Homo sapiens: one gene and its partners. The protein of the gene in region 3 purifies or fractionates together with the protein of the main gene of each other region. This does not show direct contact. Each region holds a gene or a part of one and is shown on either strand. Other genes may lie near its edges.

Region 1 (3,505 bases), on a different chromosome or scaffold from region 3:
CAGATGCCCCTTTCCTGCTTCTATATTTCTTCTACTCCTCCTTCACCAACTATAGCACTATTATTACATAATTAGGCAGCACTGTAAAAATATAAATAAACTGTCTATCCAAGATGCTATGGAGTGGATCCATGGTAATATTTGTCAGTGAGGCCGAACACTCTTAAATTTCTACTTTCTATAAGAAAATCTCTTCTAATATTCATTTTTCTAAGAAGCATGTACTTTTGGCCAGGCATGGTGGCTCACGCCTATAATCCCAGCACTCTGGGAGGCTGAGGTGGGTGAATCACCTGAGGCTGGGAGTTCGAGACCAGCCTGGCCAACATGGTGAAACTCCGTCTCTACTAAAAATACAAAAATTAGCTGGGCATGGTGGTGGCACACGCCTGTAATCCCAGCTACTTGGGAGGGCTGAGGCAGGAGAATCACTTGAACCTAGAGTTGGAGGTTGCAGTAAGCCCAGATAGTGCCACTGCACTTCAGCCTGGGCAACAGAGCAAGACTGTCTCAAAAAAAAAAAGAAAAGAAAAGAAAAGAAAAGGGTATACTTTTAACAGTTCTTAATATCACAAAGTATCTCTAAGTCCCAAAATTTTTATTTGGACAGTTTTATTAAATCAGCACAGTCCTAAATACAGCTTTTAAATTAGTATTTTTAAAGTCTGAAAACTCATGGCCCCACAAGGCAACCCCAACTCCTCACCAAAGCAAACCAAGTTTTCACAACACATATGCTACACTCCAGCCAAACTGAAACCAGATTGCACTGTTTGCCTTCCTTTCCCAATTAGAATTCCTATTAGAATACAAGCTCAATAAGCAGAGGGTATGTCTTACCACTGCTTCCCTAGCACCTAGAGGAGTGCACAGCATTCAATATTTGCTGTATAAATAAATGGTACAATGTCTGTGTCATTCACGTTAACACTTAGCATATGTTATCTTGGTGTGTGTGTGTTTTTTTTTTAATTTTATAAAGACAGGGTCTCACTATGTTGCCCAGGCTGGTCTCGAACTCCTGGGTTCAAGTGATCCCCCTGCCTTGGCCTCCCAAAGTGTTGGGATTAAAGGCATGACACCACTGGGCCCAGCCCTTATCTTATTTTTAAGCCTATTGCTTCAACTAGACAATAAGCTCTCTTTAAAGACACAAACCAGGCACGGTGGCTCACACCTATAATCACAGCACTGCGGGAGGCCAAGGCAGGTGGAGCAGTTGAGCCCAGAAGCTCGTGACCAGCCTGGGCAACATGGTGAAACGCTGTCTCTACTAAAATTACAAAAAATAAAATTAGCCAGGTATGGTAGTGTGCACCTGTAGTCCCAGCTACTCAGGAGGCTGAGGTAGAAGGATTGCTTGAGCCCGGGAGGCAGAGGACGCAGTGAGCCAAAATCGCACCACTGCACTCCAGCCTGGACGACAGAGTGAGACCCTGTCTCAAAAATTATTTATAAATAAATAAAATAAAGACAGAAACCATTATTAATATATCCCTGTATTCTTGGTAACTAAAAGAATGTTCTCATAATAGTAACTTAGCAAATGTTAAAGCTCAGACCACCACCACAATGAAAGAATGGAGCAGATAGTCTCTAATTCTCTCAGTATTCTAAGACCATTCAGATATTGAAATAGAAACACAGAGCAATTATATAGGTAGAAAAATAGCCTTTATTTTTTTCCCTCAAAGAAAATATAGAGGTAGGGCAAGAAAAACACATGAAATGTGGCATAAAACACAGTAATTTTCAACATTTAATTAACATAAATAAGTTGGGTTTTAAAAATTTAATTTTAGAACTAGGCAGCTATTTCTTTCATACTAATAATATACTTCAAATATCTCATTCTTTTATTATGCCTGGAAGTCTTCATCATTCTTTGGAAAGTTAAGAAATTGCTAAAAGTTGAACTACAGAACAGAGTGTTCAGACTTCATCCCATTATGAGGATAATAAAAGTAGGACTCTATCAGTGTTCTCAAACTATTAGGTATAAATCATTTTCCAACATAGTAAATCTGACAGGTAAACTACAGTTCTGCAAAGTCTAATAACAAGTTATGTTATTAAGTACAGTGTTTTGAGAATCCTGAGTCAAATAAATGAGAACCAATCTATCAAAAGGGAAGCAATGCTCAACAGAGAAACCTCCCACTTACCCTGTGATTTTATATCCATGGTCACATATGGAAAACTCCCAAGGACAGCCATAACCTCTTCATATTTTTCATCTTCAAGGAAGTGCAGTAGAGTGTGACGATCTGATTCTTTTAAACTCACCAAATCCTGGATAGTTTTAATTTTATACTGAATAAAAAAAAAAAAGAAAATACATAATTCCCTAACTCACAAAGCTTTTCATAAAAAGAAAATTACTCACATGTTAACCACAACAAAATCCAGCAACTTTTAGAAAAGTGTTGATTAATGTGCATTTCAAAGTACAAAATAACGATATGGCATTTCATGACCTTTTTCTCCAAGAAAATTTAAATTAAGAATTTTTAAATTATAAAGTTAATACAGGCTTATTTTTTTAAATTAGAAAAAACAAAGTTGGAGGGAAAAAATAAGAATCTTGACTCAACCAAGAACTTTGTCAATTGATGTCCTCAGTTTATTTTCAATTTTAATAACAAAAACCTTTAATTAGCAATTAATAGGTTTACTATTAACAAACCTTTAATAATAAACGTTTACTTTTACCTAATAAAAGTAAAAATAAACCTCAATAAAGACGCACCTTCAAAGTTTTACTATGCAATATTCTCATTTTTGTTATTCTTAAAATATAGCTATTACTACAGTAATATCCATCTTGGCAAAATGGTTACTTAGGAGCGTGTTCTTTAATTTTCCAGGTGTTTGGTGCTAGTTATTTTTCACTTTCAAAGACACAGATTAGATCATGAGGCATGTAAAATCTCTGCTTTTAGATTCTGAAGTTTTTAATTATGACTTAACATACAATCAAATTTATAAGGGGAACATGAGTACTTAAAAGGACAGAGAACTCTGATACTAATTTCCAACATGCATTTATTAATTCTACATTAATATACTATCAAATCCAATGTCTATTCTCTGCTAGTTTTATCTATCATATACAAAATAATGTTTAAAATCTCCTACTAGAATTGTAACTTCAGTTTCTTATATTTCCTCAAGTTTTTCATTTACACAAATTTTTGTTATATCTTAAGATTCATTATCATGTTTATACTATAGATTATATATTCTAAATAAGAACTGTCTTTATTTGATTTATTAAATGTTTTTGTTGTTCATGCTTAACCAGTAAACAATTGCCCAACCTTAAGCCAAGAATAAAATGACTGTAAAGTAGACAGTACATTTATTTTTGGTAACATAATATAAGGAACTAACTGTTGACTTTTTAAATGCAACAACCCCCAAAATAATAAAACTACTTACAGTAGTAAAATACTATAAAACACAGCTACCTAGTCAAGAAAATGTTAACAGAACCACCTGAGAG
Region 2 (4,005 bases), on a different chromosome or scaffold from region 3:
TAAAAGGGTATGCTGTGGAAATGTTAAGAAGAGAAAGGTTTAAATATGTTGACATAAAAGAAATCTTAGCTAGGTTTGTGCTTTGGACTGAATGTTTGTCCTCCTCCTGCCCAGCCAAAATTCGTGTTATAAATCCTAATCTCCAATATGATGGTATTTGGAGATGGGGTCTTTGGAAGGTAATCAGGTCATAAGGGTGCAGACCTCAGTAATGCATGTTCTTTATTAGTGTCCTTATAAGAAAAGACAGGAGAGATCACTTCTCTTCTCTGCTTTCTCACATGTAAACCGGAAAGAGAGCCCTCACCAAAACTTGACCATGCTGGCACCCTGATCTGGAACTTCCAGCTTTCAGAATTTTGAGAGATAAATGTGTCTGTTGTTTAAGCCACCTAGTCTTTGAGAATGTGTTACAGCAGCTCAAGTAGACTAAGACCAGAAGGGAGAAATGCAAACTATATCAGTGCAAATTACAGAAAAATGTACAGAGATATGACCATTTTATTTTTAATGTGGAGTATAATTTAGTGAAGGAGAAAAGAAGGGTATGGGGATGGCAATTTCCTGTTTTGATATCTACACTTCTGCAAAGATCATTACTTTTATAATCATAATTAAGCATTTGATTCAACACTGAGTCTTGTGTTAGACACTGGGAAGGTGAACATGACAGTCAGGGCACCTGTTAAGTCCATTTTTAAATTTGTGATTTAAGTTGCTATAGCTATAATAAATTAAATGATGTATATATATATCTGTTTGTGGATTTTGGCATCTATCTCTCTCTGCATTGTGGTGCCAGGGCCATGTTATTTTCATTATGAAAGCTTTATAACAGGTTTTAATATCTGACTAGGCAAATTCTCTCTCATTACCCAGGATGATAATTTTCTAGGCCTTTAAAAATTAATTTTATTGAGGTGCAGTTTACATACAGTACAATGCACCACTTAAATATATATATATTTCGATGAGTTTTGTCAAATTTATACGCCCATATAACCATCAAAATAAAAAATTGACCAAAGTATCCAAAAGATCATTTGGAATTAGAACTAGTAAAAATTAACAGAAAATACTCGCTATAGTGCAACACGTGACAAAGAATTACTACTTCAATGTGTAATACACATAAAGTGTTTAAAAGTCAGGAGGAGAAAGATACTCCAACTGAAAAATGGGCAGAAGAATTAACAATCAACTCACCTACAGAAATGCAAAAGGCTACTACACAGAGGAAAAAGTGTTAATTCCCATGGGTAATCAAAGACATGCAAATTAAGACAAGATACCATTTTTTGGTCCACGCTTTTGATTTAAAACTTCAAATGTGTATACATAGAGAAAATTTTAAGATATGCAGAAAATCTAAACCATCTAGAAGTTGAAGTTTTAAGTTATTTTTATTTTGCTTCTCCTTTGGATTTTTGTTTACTGGATGTTTTCTAATATGTGTATCCTTACAACATTCTAATAATTCTAATAATGTTGATTTTCTCTTCTCACCTCATAAAGTACCTAGTGCAGTGCATTCTAGAAATTCACCCCTAAAAAAAAAAGCTATTTCCCCTATAGAAGGAGAAACACACACATGCACGCGCACACACACCCGCATGTGTTGCTAATGGTCCGCATGGTGAGATCATCATTGGAGCCGCCCTGCGGTCCCCCGGAGAGAGCCTGGGCCGAGCAGAGGATGCGGGTCACAACGACCCTGCAGGAGCTCACGCCCCAAGACACCGCGAGCGCAGTGCGACACTAGCGACGCCGGAGCCAAGGGCCAGAAAGAGGGCGAGACACACCCAGGTGGATCTAATTAACCCTCCCTCTTGGAAAAAGAATGGGGGACGATGTCCAGGGCCCTGGATCTAGTGTCTGTCGCTGACCTTGGGCAGTCCCTGCCACGCTTGAGCCTCAGTTTCCCACCCGTAGGCCGAGCTGACCGTCTCCATCGCTGCGCTCCTTCCCTTCTGCTGGTTTTTCCTGGTCCTGGGAGGGACGCCTTCCTCTGCCCAGTCGCCCTCCCCCAGCCCTTGGCTGCGAGGTCGCCCGCAGAAACCCAACACTGCTGCCGCGCTCTCGGCGCGCCCGGCGAACCTAAGGTGTGGACGCGCCGCGAGGGTCCCCTGCTTGCGGGCGGCCATTAGGCGCCAGGCCCCTTGGCGCTTCGGCCCTGCTAGGCTCGGCGAGGGTCTTACCCAGACTGGCACGCGCCCCGCTCGCGTCCTTCTATTGACCTGTCAGCGCAGCTGGCGCAGGCAAGGGCCAGGGAGGCGCCCCCGAGACACTCAACCATCCCCGCACTGATGCGGGCCCCTGCTGCCCTGGGGACCCCTGCGGGGTCCTCGCAATCCTCCGGCAGGAAGCGGTCGGAGCTGCGGGCAGGGCCGCTAGGCAACCCGCCTGCCCGAGGCGCACTGCCCGGGGCACAGGCCCTCTGCGATGACTCTCCCCAACCCCCAGCTGCCCTGCTTGTGCCAGCTGTGGCCACCCCTAATCCTTGTCCCCTCGCTCTAGTGTCCAGGGCTCCGACCACCGCGCCAGAAGGGCTGGGCAGATCGTGCGCAACAGAAACCTACCCGGTTGGGGCGACCAGCTCGGTCCCCTGCGCGCGCCGAGGGCCGCCTCTGGTATTGCCCAGGCTGGCTAGCTCATCCCGGTGGAGGCGCCATCTCCGGGGCCCGGAAGGAGCGGGCGCAGCGCGGTTTGGGTGTGCGCCGGAGCCTCACCTCCTCCCGCCTCGCAGCTCAGGCGCAGGGCTCCCCTTGCTCAGGCGGGCCATGTGACCCGCGAGCTGCGGAGAGACCGCGGCCCCCAAAGCGGCTTGGGGAAAAAGGACGGCAAAAGGCGCCAACTGATGGGCAGCCAGGGAAAAGCAGGAGTCGCCCCCAAGTCACGCAAACAGGAAGCCTGTTTCTTTTGTGAGGGGACTAGAAGCCAGCATTATATTTCATCAGGTGTGTACATAGAGACTTATTCACACCAATGGAACGATATCTCTCAATGCGTGTAAACGCTTCATGAGAAAGCTGTTACTTTGGGTCTTGAATGTTTTTCAGTCTTCCCCAAACCCTCAATTTAAACACAAACGGCCACGAGAGACATAACGCCTGAGGTATGAGAAAGTATGCACATTGATTGAGAACAATCCCGGCAAAGCAAATAGGAAAAAGATACGGAATGATCCGAGGGAGGAAAAATGTGGGGGTCAAAAGAAAAGTAACAGCCTCCTACATTCCACCTTGGACTTTCCCTTCTGAATGGGTTTTCAGCACACAATTGTACGGCCTTACTCAGTGCTTCTAATCCTAGGTTTGCCTGTCTAGGCCACAGGTTAGCAACTACAGTTTGCTGCCTGTTCTTGTACAGCCCACAAGCTAAGAATGTTTTTTGCAATATTTCATGGTTAAAAATGGAAGAATATTTCAGGGCTACGAAAATTATATGAATTCAAAATTTGATGATCGTAAACAAAGTTTTACTGCAACATAGTCATCATTTACATATTGTCTATGGCTGCTACCATGAAAGAACAGCAGAGTTGGATAGTTGTGACAGAGACCTTATGACCCACAAAACCTAAAATATTTACTGCCTGATTTGCCAACACCTGCTCTAAAAGGTCTGTTCAGTGGTCACAAGATAAAGCATTAAAGCCAGTAAATGCTCATATGATTTCTTCTTGTGTAAGTAAAATTGATACTAGATATTAACTTCCTTTAGAACCTTACAAACACCCACCTGAGCCCCCATTCATCATCTACTCTTTCAGCCAGCATTTACTGAAGAATGGTTCTGACATACTGCCATCACTATAGATGACAATGAAGTAAGAATGAGGTGTGGATCCTTCACTCAAGGAATTTGTCATTAGGAATGCTGGAAAACCTATATCTGAGGCTGGAAAGTATGAGAGCTGGATATAGCACAGAAAGGGAGCTTGGGAAGGTAGTTTCATTTCCTGGGAGAAAAAATGGGAGTCTGATATTCCGAAATTGGAGGATT
Region 3 (3,505 bases):
CACTCCTGGAGCTTGTGCTGACCCTGGGGTGGCCATGGAACTGCAGTGACCTGGGCCCTGGATGCCCCACCAGCTGGCCCTAGCTTCGTCCTCCAGGTGAGACTCGACTGGCACCACAGCAGGCCAGAGTGTAGAAGCCCCTGCAGGTGGTAGAGGGCAGTGACTGTTGATTGCTCAGGCAGGCTCCCCTGGGATGCCCCCTTAGAGGCCAAGTGATCTCAACCCCTCCAGTAAGTCGACTTCTCGGCTCTACTCTGCTCAGAAGGTGGCGGCAGTTCAGCAAATTCCCCAAGCATCAGTTTTTATCAGACCGGCTTTCCAAGATGGGCTGAGCTCAAGATGTTCCCGGTCCTGGGTAGGGTGGAAACTCCAAGTCTTTCTGCACTTAGATCTCCTCCTTATTGTCCCTCCCCATTTAATTATTCAAGCCCTTAAGCTCTGAATGGCCAGAGCCCAAAGTCTTACAGACCCATGTGTGGCTGAATCTGTGGACTTCTCAGCCATGCTGAGACAGACAAGCCCTGTGGAATTAAAACATGGCATCGAGACCTTCACACATCAAGGTTACCCCAACACTAGTGGCTGACGAGTCAGGCTTGCCTTCTCCCTAAAGTCTTCTCAAGCAGAGGGCATGGTCAGCTGGCATAGTCAGATATCTGCCAACGGTAGGACCTCTCCAGGATTGGTGGGGCATGGGGGAGTATGAGCCACCCTCTGGCAGTTATCATCGCTCTGGGTGGCAGGCTTGGGGCTCAGGAAAAACCCCAGTTCCATATTCACTTTATTTATTTATTGAGACGGGGTCTCCTCTGTCACTCAGGCTGCAGTGCAGTGGCATGATCACAGCTTATTGCAGGCTCAACTTCCCAGGCTCAGGTGATCCTCCCACCTCAGCCTCCCAAGTAGCTGGGACCACAGGTGCATGCCACCATGCCTGGCTAATTTTTGTAATTTTTTCTTGTAGAGATAGTTTTTCACCATGTTGCCCAGGCTGGTCTCAAACTCCTGGGCTCTAGCGACCTGCCCACCTCAGCCTCCCAAAGTGCCTGGATTACAGGCATGAGCCACCGTGCCTGGCCCCCATTCCCTTTAAAGTGCACGTAAAAGCTTTGATTTTACTGTTATTATCGCCAAGCATGAGTACATGGAAAAATAAAGTGGGTCAATTTAAAGATAAATATTACATTATGACAGTTCAAGTGGTACACCAAATTGGTAAAAGGCGAAAGACTTATACAATCTGAAGAGTAACCAGAGTATAGTACACCAAACTGGGGGGAAAAAAACCTGGGGTGGTGATTCATGGATGCCCAGAGTCTGGGAAACACAGTAATATAGCCTGGGAAGGAGGTTTAGACCTAAAGTCCTTTCCTTGTCTATTTCTTTTGTGAAAAATGCCGGTCGCAGCTCAATAAGTGGACTTCATACTCTGCTAACATGTGGCTGCAGCTGGCAGAGCACTGCTCTCGCCTGAGCTTGGGGTGAGGCTCTTGACCCCACCGCCCTGAGCTCCTTCCCTGCTCAGCCACGGCTCTGTCACTCGCTCAAGGTGGGCAGCTTGGCTTCACCATGTCCAAGGCCGTGGCAGGCAGCATGTTGGCTCAAACAAGTTGGACTTGTTTTGTGAATGTGCCTTCGTGTGAGTGTGAATGTGTGTACCTACAGAGGGTGCAGCAAAGTGGGGTGCAGGGGGAACAAACGGGTCCAGGCCTTCTCCCTGGGGGAAGGGCCAGGATGCTCCCATCCAAGGGCTAAACCAGCAGGACAGGGCCCTAGGAGGGGCACCATTCAGAAACGAGCCCCAAACAACAGAGCTGGTTCATGGCACTCCCCTTCCCCAGCAAAAGCCTCCTGCTCCTCCAGAGACAGGGGGCTCTAACCACAAGGGTGTCAGCATCCCTGGTCCAGCAGGAGAGGAGGGAAGTGCAAAAGGCAGCTTGAGGCTTGCTAGAAGGGCTTAGCTAGGGAGAAGAACAGAAATTGTCTCCAGCCAGGCATCTCTTTGAAAGGATATCCCACCCCCAGATTTCTCCTTTGACAACCTCTCCCACAAGTTTTTTGTTTGTTTGTTTGTTTTTGAGACAGGGTCTTGCTCTGTCACCCAGGCTGGAGAGTACAGTGGTGTGATCTGGCTCACTGCAACTTCCGCCTCCTGGGCTCCAGTGATCCTCTCACCTCAGCCTCCTGAGTAGCTGGGACTGCAGGCACGAGCCACCACACCCAGCTAATTTTTTGTAGAGACGGGGTTTCACCATGTTGCCCAGGCTGGTCTCGAACTCCTGGGCTCAAGTGATCCACCCACCTTGGCCTCCCAAAGTGCTGGAATTATAAGCATGAGCCACTGTGCCCAGCCTTCCTCTCTCTCAATTTAAAGACAACCCTGTACTAGTTCTTAGGTTAGAACTCTGAAGGCAGAAGCTGGCAGCCCAGTGGAGGGCTGGGCTAGTGTGACCATTGTCAAGTTTGGGCTATGCGTCTGCAGATGCATTGTTTTGAGTTTTGTTCCACATGCTCAGGTTGGGGCCCAGAAGTAAGGATGTCTGCAGCATGGCCCGCCCTCGGGCTCTTAGGCAACAGATGAGCATACAGGTCAGAAGCACATGTGAGACTGGGTCCCTGGGTCCCTCTCTAAGCATCAGACAAGGCAAACCATGGTGCTAGGTGGTTAGCAGAGCTGGGAGGTGGGACCATCCAGGGCAGCTGGCCAGGGGTGGCTGTAAGCATACTCAGGATGGTGTTGCGAGGACGAGCCACACCCTAAGGCTCCTTTCTAGAGGATACAGTGACAACACAGGGCGGGCCCATGAGCCACCGCAAACCTGTCAGTCTCAACCTCTCTTATTTCCTGCACTCAGTTTTTCTTTTCTTTTCTTTTTCCTTTTCTATTTTTTTGTGACAAAATCTTACCTGTCACCCAGACTGGAATGCAGTGGTGCGATCTCAGCTCACTGCAACTTCTGCCTCCTGGGTTCAAACGATTCTCTTACCTCAGCCTCCCGAGCAGCTGGGATTACAGGCATGCACCACCACGCCCAGCTAATTTTTGTATTTTTAGCAGAGATAAGATTTTACCGTGTTGCCCAGGCTGATGTCGAACTCCTGACCTCAAGTGATCAGCCTGCCTCAGCCTCCCAAGCAGCTGGGAGGGCACCACCACACCCAGTGCACAACCACACCCGGCTAATTTTTTGTATTTTTAGTAGGGACAGCGTTTCACCATGTTGGCCAGACTGGTCTCAAACCCCTGACCTCAAGTGATCCACCCGCCTTACCCTCCCAAATTCCTGGGATTACAGGTATGAGCCACCGTGCCTGGCCTCCTGCACTCAGTTTTTCTTATATCTTCTTCTAAACCCTTCAGCATGAGCCGACACCAAACACCAACCTCTCAGATTAAACTGGGCCCTCACCACACAATGCTGAGTCCCAGCATATTGTCTAGAGACTCTCCCGAATTCATCCCCCTTCCCCCCATGGTCACAGCCACTGCAGTGGCAGCCATGCA

Evidence for each region. The genes of interacting proteins can lie anywhere in the genome.
Region 1: the proteins of FA2H (region 3) and SEC63 purify together in Homo sapiens (affinity purification with mass spectrometry; one large-scale study listed by BioGRID and IntAct). This does not show direct contact.
Region 2: the proteins of FA2H (region 3) and PGAP4 purify together in Homo sapiens (affinity purification with mass spectrometry; one large-scale study listed by BioGRID and IntAct). This does not show direct contact.

Annotation. Positions count from the first base shown.
Region 1 is NC_000006.12:107,899,205-107,902,709, forward strand, and holds part of SEC63 (translocation protein SEC63 homolog), read right to left. Parts: intron 2,314-3,505; coding exon 2,166-2,313; intron 1-2,165. UniProt on the Homo sapiens protein: Mediates cotranslational and post-translational transport of certain precursor polypeptides across endoplasmic reticulum (ER). Proposed to play an auxiliary role in recognition of precursors with short and apolar signal peptides.
Region 2 is NC_000009.12:101,484,370-101,488,374, forward strand, and holds the start of PGAP4 (GPI-N-acetylgalactosamine transferase PGAP4), read right to left. Parts: upstream 2,805-4,005; 5' UTR 2,580-2,804; intron 2,402-2,579; exon of another isoform or gene 2,199-2,401; intron 2,100-2,198; exon of another isoform or gene 1,887-2,099; intron 1-1,886. UniProt on the Homo sapiens protein: Golgi-resident glycosylphosphatidylinositol (GPI)-N-acetylgalactosamine transferase that catalyzes the N-acetyl-beta-D-galactosamine transfer from an UDP-N-acetyl-alpha-D-galactosamine to the 4-OH-position of the first mannose of the glycosylphosphatidylinositol (GPI) of a GPI-anchored protein (GPI-AP).
Region 3 is NC_000016.10:74,768,318-74,771,822, forward strand, and holds part of FA2H (fatty acid 2-hydroxylase), read right to left. Parts: intron 1-3,505. UniProt on the Homo sapiens protein: Catalyzes the hydroxylation of free fatty acids at the C-2 position to produce 2-hydroxy fatty acids, which are building blocks of sphingolipids and glycosphingolipids common in neural tissue and epidermis.